2 separate regions of the Homo sapiens genome follow, and region 2 is linked to region 1. The links come from fine-mapping of genetic effects on gene expression. A gene starts in region 1. The other region holds a variant in brackets. All regions are shown on one strand. Distances are between the middles of the regions.

Evidence for each region. PIP is the estimated chance that this variant, and not a neighbour inherited with it, causes the effect.
Region 2: its variant is fine-mapped to the expression of SLC7A10 in whole blood (TOPMed, PIP above 0.99).

What each region holds. Positions count from the first base shown.
Region 1 is chr19:33,223,636-33,229,008 of GRCh38, forward strand. SLC7A10 (solute carrier family 7 member 10) reads right to left here and starts at 2,215. Exons shown (of 11, transcript NM_019849.3): 1 at 1,918-2,215. The coding sequence starts at 2,068.
Region 2 is chr19:32,975,259-32,980,583 of GRCh38, forward strand. FAAP24 (FA core complex associated protein 24) reads left to right here. Exons shown (of 5, transcript NM_152266.5): 5 at 1,173-2,971. The coding sequence ends at 1,424. RHPN2 (rhophilin Rho GTPase binding protein 2) reads right to left here. Exons shown (of 15, transcript NM_033103.5): 15 at 3,334-4,998. The coding sequence ends at 4,738. Among named protein-coding and RNA genes, the nearest start is that of FAAP24, 5.7 kb to the left of the region's middle. The variant C/A (reference allele first, on the strand shown) is at 2,246.

The DNA.
Region 1 (5,373 bases):
GTAATCCTCAAAGGCTCCCCGGGCCAGGCCAAGATCAAGGCTCCCCAAGACCACCACTGAGTGCCCCGGGCTTGGGTTCTGTAGCTGAATCCAGCATCCTTGGTTAGCTAAGTGGCCCTTCACCCTGGCTCAGTGTTCAAGGTTTGGAGGCCAAGGTAGTGGACCTGGCACAGCAGGAAGGAACTGAAGGGTAGGGGAGCTGTCAGGGCAGACCTGGGCTGCATGGGAAACTTACAGAGTCTGTCCTGGAAAAGGAGGGTGATAGTGGAGTTGGCCTTCTCCACTCCCACCACCACCACCTCTACCATCACCACCACCACCACCACCACCACCACCACCACCACCACCACCACCAGGGCCCCTTTCTGGGGAGAAAGGAGCCAGGCAGCCTCCCTGTGGCCTGGGGAGGATGGGATGTGGGGAGGGGATAGAGTAGGAAGACAGGTCAAGGATGCTGGGCTTAGCTGAGGAGCCCAGGCAGAGCTGTGTCTTTCTGCACCTGCCTGGCACTGTAGCTGGTTCTAGGCATGGTCTCAATCCTATGACCCACTCATGGTGTGAGCTTCCCCTTCCCTGGAGGACAGTTCCTGGAGAGGGTGTGGGCCAAGAAAAAGCTCTAACCAGCACCCTGGCCAAATCCCTGGAACCAGCCCTTCCTTCCAGCAGACCGTCCATCAGGCAGGGGCATCCTAGGCCAAGAAGCTCCCAGGGCCAGGTCAGGACCAGGCTCTGGGAGACAGCATTCTAAGGGGAGGGGGTGAGATGGCGGAGTGACCTGGCCAGGGGCTGTGTTCAGGGGCAACTCTGGATGTGAAGAGCTGCTAATGTGGGGGTGGGAGAGGACGAGGTGAAGACCCTGGGTCTGCCCTACTGAGCCCCCAAACTTTCTCCATCTCCAGGGGTCTGAGGGTGGGAAGGCAGTGAAGACACAAGTGGCTCTCACTGGCAGGGGACCGGGAAGACTGGCTGGCGGTAAGGTGAGAACAGTCGAGGCCCCAGTCACTCACCCCCCAAACCACTTCTCCTGTCCCTCCCTGGAGGGGCTCAGAGGCACTCTGTGTAGACAAAGAAACAAGTCAGTATCCATGACTTGGGACAGAGAGTGGAAAAATACCACTGCCATTCCCATGACCTCTGAGCTCTCTGCCTGCCCAGAAACCCCTATGTGGGGGCAGGACATGGACCCATTCTCAGGTGGGGACTTTGGAGTCCAGGGCCTCCAGACCAGGCGAGTGTCCAGTGCCCACCAGGATCCCAGCTCAGGGAGCAGCTGGCCTTCTGCAGGCTGGGTCTGCCCACTGCTGCCCCCAATTGCTGGCTAACCCGCCCCCTCTCCTGGGTCCTGCTGCCAAACCCTGCAGTCATTGCCTGCTCTGAACCTCCGTCCCTTCTGCGCAGGCTGCGCTTGCTCACTCTGCTCATAGGCCCTCCTGCTTTCCAAGAATAAAGTCACTGCACTGCGTGGCACCTGGACCCTGCACACAGTAGGTACTCAGACTGACCCACAGTACAGAACTTGGGGAGCTCAGCCTGCCGCAGCCTGACCAGCCCCTACACTGGTCAAGTTCCTGCGCTAATCGCAGGACTGCAGTCATGGCCATTTCACAGATGAGGAAACTGAGGGTAACTGCCTTGCAAAAGCCCCGCAGCAAAATCGAGTCAGGAGGAAGAGTCCAGCGGTGGAGGGGACCCAAAACTCCCCCAGGTGCAGGCGGCCGGGAGGTGGGAACACGGAGCTTTGGCACCCTGGGCCAGCAGCCCCTGACCTCCCCGCGGTCATAGCGCTCTCTGAGGCCAGACTGCAGGTTCCCCAGGCAGACCCGTCCGAGCGCCCGGAGAGGGGACGCCCCTCGTTCGGAGCGGCTGCGCCCCTCATTCGGCCTCCGCCCGGCGCCCGCCCGCCTGGGTCCCGCTCACCGATGATGATGGTGCAGGCGCTCAGCAGCCCGATCTCCTTCTTGAGCGCCACCCGCTCCGAGGCGCCGGGGACGGTCCCTGGGACTGGGGAGGGCGAGGGCGCAGGCCTGGGGTTCCCGCGCCCGCTCGGCTGCTGCGTGTGGCCGGCCATGTCGCTGTCCCGCCGCGTCCCCGCTCCCTGCGCTGCCCCGTCTGTCCGGCCGGCCGCCCGTCGGTCCGTCGGTCCGTGAGCTCACGGCCCTCGCAGCCGGGACAGCGCCCACAGGCGGGCGCATGCGCTGGCTCCGGGCCCGGGACTGGGGGCCCCGGGCGGCGGGGGCCCGGGAGGGGCGGAAGGAGGGCCGGCCCACAGCCCCCTCCCCCACCTCCCTTAAAGGGAACGCCCCCTCCCCCAGTCCCGGCCTGGGAAGGAAGGAGAGGACTTGGGGCAGATCTAGGAAGGACTTCCCAGTTGGGCGAAGGAAGGGACCCTCCAGTTGCCTGAGTTACATCCATTCTTGGGGCCGGGTTGGGGAGCAGAGCTCCGAGACAAGACAATCCCTGCTCTCAGGGAGGCCGAGGGGGACGGCAAGAATAACAGCTGGCCGCGTGTGGGGATGCAGTGTGTGCTCCCTTTAGTACTCTATGCCTGCACGATGTGTGTGTGTGTGTGTGTGTGTGTGTGTGTGTGTGTGTGTGTGTAGGAGACAGCTCCCAGGGTGAGTCCATTCTACAGGTGGAAGTTGAAGCCCAGAGATCAGTAGCGATCGCCGAGCAAGTGCAGGGCTGAGACCAAACCCTTTCTCGTGCCTCCTGAGGCTCCCAGGCGGACAACCTCAGGAGGGGTGGGGGTTGAGGTCTGGAACTCCTCTGAGGGGTCTGGGTGTCCTATGCACCCTGGATCAAAGGCCTGAGGGTCGAGGTGAAGATCCCGGGGGCTCTCATCCTCATCACGGGGACCCAAGACCTGTGACGAGTCCTGGACACGGCTCGCCCACCCTACCAGGCTCTGGGCCACCTCTGGCCTGAGATCTTCACTACAGGCTCCTCGTCCCAGGTCAGAGTGAGGGCTCAGCGGACTAGAACTCGGGTCTCTGGTGCAGGTCCCGCGCGATCCAGCCCGGCTCAAGAAGGCCAGGCGACCTGGAATGCCCGGGAGACACGGAGAAGGAGGCTGTGGTCGCGGGAGAGGGTCGGGAGTGCGGGGATCCGAGGGAGGCTGCCTCCTCCCGGAAGCCGTCCGGACTGTGCAGCCGAGGCCGGCGGAAAAGATCCAGGGGGGCCGCGTCGGGGCCACCGGGGCGGCGGGCGGGGCGAGCCTGGCACTGTGCGGCCGGCGGCGGAACAGCCTTTGTTTCTTCCTGGCGGCCGCCGCGACGCGCCGTCCCCTGCATGTGGATGAGGCCTCGCCGGGCGCCCCGTCCTTCCCCCCAGTGGCGGCCTCCGGGTTTGCTGGGGCCCTGCCAGGGGTCCGACGGCTGCAGGGTGGACCGGGGTGGGACGGGGCGGGGGCGGGTCCCTGGCAGGGGCGGGTCCCTGGCAGCGGCAGGGCCTGGAGGTGGGAGCGGGGCGGGGCCGGCGTTTGCAGGCACACAGGAGCTTCGAAGTTGGGGGCGGGGACTTGGGGTAGGAGTAGGAGCGGGAGGATCCAGGGTGGACGTGCTGGTGGGACGCCGAGGGGGAGGCCACCCGGCGAAGCTGCATCCCTCTCGCTTCTGTCGTCGGAGACCGGCATTCTTGGCGCCCTCCACCTCCAGCCCCAGAGACCATTCAGAGGCCGACTCTCTTAAAGGAGCCTCGCGCAGGGTAGGGGCAGCCCTGGCTCCGGAGACCCCTGATTGTCGCGGGTGTTAGGGGCCAGAGGCCTCGACCTTCTGGTTTGACTCTCCCCAGCCCCCCAGTTGCCCTCGCAATTCTAGGGTCTGCTGGGAGAGGGTCTAGCCAGGGCTGGTGCAATCAGGGGCAGCTTGCCAAGGGGCAGGGGCTGGCGCAAGCCTCGCAGCTCTGAAGCCTGTGGTTTTCGAGGGTGTCTCTCTGGGACCTGGAATGTGGAGTATGCGTTTGTGGGGGAAAGGTCGGCCTAGGGCTTTGCACAGGATGGAGTTTGTATGTTGTCAGCCAGGCCCCATAGCTCAGGAGGTCCTTTTCGTGGAATTGAACTAGAACCTGCAAATTTCAATGGGAACAAAAGGTTAGTAGGATTGGTTTACCATCCAAAAACCAATCAGCATGATTCTCCACATTAATAGAGAGAAAAAAGGAAAACCTCAACAGATGCAAAAAACAGTCATCCGTGATGTAAACAAACAACTCTTAGCAAATAGAAACAGAAGAGAACCTCCTTAATCTGATAAAAGTATCTACCTAAAAACAAATCTCCAAGAAACCAAGAAACAAACAAAAACCCTACAGCTGACATCATGTTTAGTGGTGAAAGTGTGAATGCTTTTCTACTGAGATTGAAAATGAGAAGGGATGTTGGCACTTGTCAATATTCTATACAATAGTGTACTGGAGGTCCTAGCCAGAGCAATAAGACAAGAAAAATAAGTAAAAAGGTATGAAGATAGTAAAGGGAAAGATAAAGCTGCCATTCACATATGATGTGATTCAGTATGTAGAAAAAAAATTACAGGTTAATTTAAGGAAGATAAGTTCATTTAGCAAAGTCGCTAGACAGAAGTTTAATATACAGAAACTAATTGTATTCTATATACTAGAAATAATTAGAAAATGAAATTAATAATAGCATAAAATCAAATACCTAAAAATAATTCTAGTGAATGATGTGTACAATTTTTATGCAAGAAACTACAAAACATTTCTGAGAGAAATTGTTAAAGACATAAGCTAATGGAGGGATATACCATGTTCATGGATTGGAATTTAAAATGTTGGTCTCCACATTGATTTATAGAATTGATAAATACATCCAATGTAATTTTGATCAAAGCACCAGACAACTTTGTTGTTGATTACAAGGCTTTTTTGGAGGGATGAAACTCAACAAGCTGATTCTAAAGAGTATGTGAAGAAGAACAAATCTGGAGGACTTATACTACAGTAAGGAAGACAGTGTGGCATTGATGCAAAGATAAACAAATCTACTGGTGGAAGAAAACAGAAATCCAGAAACAGACCCATCCTGGTTTATTATGACAAAGTTGATATTGCAGAACAGTGGAGAAAGGACGGGCTTTTCAATAAGTGGTGGTGGATCTATATATTGAAGAAAAAAACCAAAACCCTTTTAATGTCACCCTTCCATTATACCCTAAAACCAGTCCCAGGTGATGTACATGTGAAATGTACGTGTGAAAGGTGAAACATCAAAGCTGCTAGAAGAAAACTCAGGGGAGAGAATAGATACATTTTCTTAAACAGACATAAGAAACACAGTAAGAAAGTGACAGATTGGACTACATTAAGATTAGAAACTTCTGTCAGTCAAAAGACATGATTAAAGAGGAAAGAGTA
Region 2 (5,325 bases), 250 kb before region 1:
TCCTGGGTTCAAGCGATTCTCCTGCCTCAGCCTCCCTAGTACCTGGGATTACAGGCACCCACCACCATGCCCGGCTAATTTTTGTATTTTTAGTAGAGATAAGAGTTTCACCATGTTGGCCAGGCTAGTCTCAAACTCCTGACCTCAGGTGATCTGCCTGCCTCAGCCTCCCAAAGTTCTGGGCCACCGCACCAACCAACACTTTTTTTTTTTTTTTTGAGATGGAGTTTCGCTCTTGTTGCTCAGGTTGGAGTGCAATGATGCAGTCTCGGCTCACTGCAACCTCCTCCTCCTGAGTTCAAGTGATTCTCCTGCCTCAGCCTCCCGAGTAGCTGGAATTACAGGTGCCCGCCACCACGCCCAGCTAATTTGTATTCTTAGTAAAGACGGGGTTTCTCCATGTTGGTCAGGCTGGTCTCGAACTCCCGACCTCAGGTGTTGTGCCCGCCTCAGCCTCCCAAAGTGCTGGGATTACAGTCGTGAGCCATCGCGCCCGGCCGCCAACACTTATTTTTAAAATCAGTTTAGTAGCTTACGCCTCTGATCCCAGCATGGGGAACATCAATTGTGTGTGTGTGTTGTTTGTTTTTTTCACTTTTGTTTTCTTTGTTATGTGTGTGTTGTTTTTAAATCACCCCCTCTGATGTGGAGCTAGAGTTGAGAGCCACATTGAAGATGCAAGCAGCCATGAATGGTTCACAGATCCCTCTCTACTATATCCCTTGCGTCACCGTTCCTAACTTTCCTTGATATAACACTGTTGTCTGCCTTAGTATAACCACCACTAACTAGACCAGGTTTCTCCTTTGAGGCAGGCTTCCTGCAGCTCCTGCGTGAAGTAGGCCTAGTTTAGGTGTAGCCATCATTTAATCCTGCACAACTGAAATGTTTCTTAATGGACCAACAGAAAGTGTTTGAATTCATCTGTGTGTTTTTCTAAACATTCTGAAAACGCACATTTTTGTAAATTAATGTCTTAACTCCTTTGTGTGGTTCACCTTTCAATAATTTTACTGATGTCTGAGAAATTATATTCATGATACATGAAAACATTTGTTCCCTTAAGTCAAGCTGAGCCAAATGGAAAAACGCAATTTCTACAAAACATATTTTAAGAAAACGGCCAGTCCTCCAGAGGGCGCTCACGTGCTGTTGCTTTCATTGTGGTTCAGGTTCAAGAGCAAACCAAAGAGCCCAGTAAGAACCCTCTTCTCGGGAAGAAACGGGCCCTGCTGCTGTCTGAGCCTTCGCTCCTTCGAACCGTGCAGCAGATCCCAGGAGTTGGAAAAGTTAAAGCTCCCCTTCTCCTCCAGAAGTTTCCAAGCATCCAGCAACTGAGTAATGCTTCCATTGGGGAACTGGAGCAGGTGGTCGGACAAGCAGTGGCACAGCAGATCCATGCCTTCTTCACGCAGCCCAGGTGAGGGCTGGCCTCAGGGCCACGGCATCTTCTCCTGAGACCACAAACACCAGGATCTTGTTTTCAGCTTTAAAAACCAAGAGAATGGGCCGGGTGCACTGGCTCACGCCTCTAATCTCAGCACTTTGGGAGGCCGAAGACAGCGGATCATCTGAGGTCAGGAGTTCAAGACCAGCCTGGCCAACATGGAGAAACCCCTAAAAATAGGAACAATTAGCCAGGCATGGTGACAGGTGCCTGTAATCCCAGCTACTTGGGAGGCCGAGGCATGAGAATCACTTGAACCCGGGAGGCGGAGGTTGCAGTGAGCTGAGATCGTGCCACTGCACTCCAGCCTGGGCACCAGAGCGAGACTCCGTCTCAAAGAAAACAACAAAAAAAAAAAAAAAAGAAAAAGGATTTTCTCCAGCAGCAACCAGTGAAAGATGAGGCGAGGCTTGAATGGAGCCCGTGGGTCGTCCTGCCTTAGCGTCTGAGTTCAGCTTGTGAAGTTAGTGGGCCGCAGAGGGCACTGCCTTCATTCTGCTAAGACGAAAAGGGCTGGTGGGATCTTCGCAAGAGAGTCAGGGACTCACACTCAGCAAAAAGCATTAGGGCCGATTTTAATGTGCGACCTTGACCTGCATCTGTCATGGAAAGTGCCTTCTAAAAAGCTTCAGTGGTGGATGTGACCATCTGAAGGAAACAAATGTACAAGGAAGCACTGTGTATCCTAAGCCCTGGGTTCCCAGAGTTTCACCTGCTGTTCATCAGGTCTGGCCTTCATATACCCGTACTGCGAGGGCTGTTTCCAATGTAAATAAATAACTGCGCAACAGTTCCTTC[C/A]TCCTTTCCTTTGTTCCTCCCTCCCCCCGGCCTTTTTTTTTGGCAGATGTACAGTTTGTTTATAATCACTGCATATGTCTTCTGCACACAGAAAGTATGAAGTCTGAAGTTCCCACTTAAAGTTGAAAACTCAACGGCCGGGCATAGTGGCTCACACCTGTAATCCCAGCACTTTGGGAGGCCAAGGGGGGTGAATCACAAGGTCAGGAGATCCAGACCATCCTGGCCGACATGGTGAAGCCCTGTCTCTACTAAAAATACAAAAATTAGCTGGGTGTGGTGGCACACACCTGTAATCCCAACTACTCAGGAGACTGAGGCACGAGAATCGCTTGAACCCAGGAGGTGGAGGTTGCAATGGGCCGAGATTGCACCACTGCACTCCAGCCTGGATGACAGAGTGAGACTCCATCTCAAAAAAAAAAAAAAAAAATTTAAAGTTGAAAACTCAACATGCATGAGGCAGAACAGGCTGTGTTTGTATATGAAAGGCCCAACAATGGAAGGATACAAGAAAATGATGGCAGCAGCTGCATCTAGTGAGGGAAGCAGGGGCTGGGGATCAAAAGGTACAAATTGCCCATTCAAAAAATAGACACAGGCCAGGCACAGTGGCTCACACCTGTAGTCCCAGCACTTTGGGAGGCTGAGGTGGGAGGATTGCTTGAGTCCAGGATTTCGAGATCAGCCTGGGCAACATGGCAAGACCCCATCTCTACAAAAAAATCAAAAAAATTAGCCAGGCATGGTGGCTCATGCCTGTAGTCCCAGCTACTCAGGAGGGTGAGGTGGGAGGATTGCTTGAGCCCGGAAGGTTGAGGCTGCCATGAGCCACAATTGCGCCACTGTCCTCCTGCCTGGGTGACAAAGCGAGACCCTGTCTTGAAAAAAAGACAAAAACAAAAAATAAGCACAAAGATACCATCTGTCTTAGAAAATACTAAGATAACTTGACAGCTTTTTAAGTTCTGCTTTGTGAAATGTTAGTAACTAAAAAAATCAGAACATTAGAAACTGTGTGCATTGGGGAGAAACAATTTGAAAGAGGAGGGAATGAAAATGAAATAAAAGTAAAAAGAAATATTAACTCGGGTAAATGAATATGTTTATTTAAATATGTATACAAGCATGGCCCTAGGAGCAGCAGATACACTTTCCCAAAGGTGGTTGCTTCCTTTAAGATATTGCACAATAGAAAATAAACTCTTGTCAATCCTTAAAATTAGTCTTCAATGCTATGTATTTTAGCTATGTAACTTGTACTGTGTCAACAGTGAACCTTATTAGATTCACGGTGTCATCGAACTTATAGCAAGATAAAAATCAATCAGTAGGAATGTCATTTTAAAAAGTAAAATAGTGGGACGGTTGTGGTGGCTCATGCCTGTAATCCCAGCACTTTGGGAGGCTGAGGTGGGTGGATCATTTGAGGTCAGGATTTCGAAACCCGCCTGGCCAACATGGTGAAACCTCACCTCAACTAAAAATACAAAAATCAGCCAGGCATGCTGGAGGGCACCTTGTAGTCCCAGCTATTTGGGAGGCTGAGGTAGGAGAATCGCTTGATCCCAGGGGGCGGAGGTTGCACTGAGCTGAGATCACACCACTGCACTCCAGCCTGGGCAACACAGCAAGACGCTATCTCAAACAAAAAAAGGAAGTCAAATAGAGCTTTAAACCTGAATCATTTACATCTTTACTTTATAAAATGTAAAACTACTTTTTTACCCAAGACTTAAAATATAGAATTATGTAACTTCTACTTTAAACAAAATGAAAAATGTTTTGAGTATCAAACAGTATATTATCTACCTTGTAGACAGCATCTTCATCTAACACTGCCACTGTGTTAGTAATTCTTAAATGACATCAAACTAGAAGAAAAGCTGCTCCTACATTGTTTTTATTTAATAAGACAAATTTGGCACTAGACTTTTTCTAGAAATAGCATTCATAGTCTATCGATATAATAGTAACATCTTGTTTTAGGTTAATGAATTCCTATTAGGAAGCAGCACTTTGGGACAGTTTTTAGTGACACTAATTTAATTCTATCATTACAGTCCTCTGACCTGCCTTAATTCCAGGATCATCTGAATTCTAGGTTAAGGAATGATTATTAGCCAAACCTGGAAACAACTACAAATTGTACTGATATAGGTAACCCCAATTTAATAGTGACTAAAAGTCATAATTGTCACCATTAAAAATAGCCATATTTCATATCTTCAACACTATTCTATTTACAATACTTTATATAATAAATAACTTACAGCAGTATAGTAACACACCTCAAAAAAGTTCTTTTTTCACTAATTCCTAGAGGTTTCTTGGTTACTTTCCTTCATAAAAACACATCAAATGTGAGTTTACACTATGAGAAAAACAGGATTTGAGAACAGATAGATAGATATTTTCCATTATGGCACAAACGTTTAAGGCCGAGTCAGCACCGGAAATGTTCAGGGCCTGAACATGTTTGTTTCCTCACATTAGTACCAAGAACTGTCTGAGTTGAGAAGGCTGAAAGGGGAGGGCAGCTTCTTCTTGACCTGAGGCCGTGCAGCCCCGACCGATGGGAGGCACAAGGTGCTGGCTGACTTCTGTCTGTTCTTGTTGGTGCCCCAACTCAGGAAGGAAAGCTTCTTGGAGATTTTCTTGGTTTTATCAGTTTTGTCGTCATCATCAATGGCTAAGCAGATCATGGAGTACGTTTTCTGCATTCCCACGGAGTATGTGGCACTCTTATTATGCTGCACATAGAAAAGTAAGAAAAAGGGCGTCAGGCATCATCAAGATAGATGATAAAAACTACGAAGTTTGGCCAGGCGCGGTGGCTCACACCTGTAATCCCAACAGTTTGGGAGGCCGAGGAAGGCGGATCACTTGAGGTCAGGAGTTCAAGACCAGCCTGGCCAACATGGTGAAACCCCATCTCTACTAAAATACAAAAATTAACCAGGTGTGGTGGTGGATGTCTGTAGTCCCAGCTGCTTGGAGCCTGGGCACAAGAATCACTTGAACCCAGGAGGTGGAGGTTGCAGTGAGCTGAGATCACACCACTGCACTCCAACCTGGGT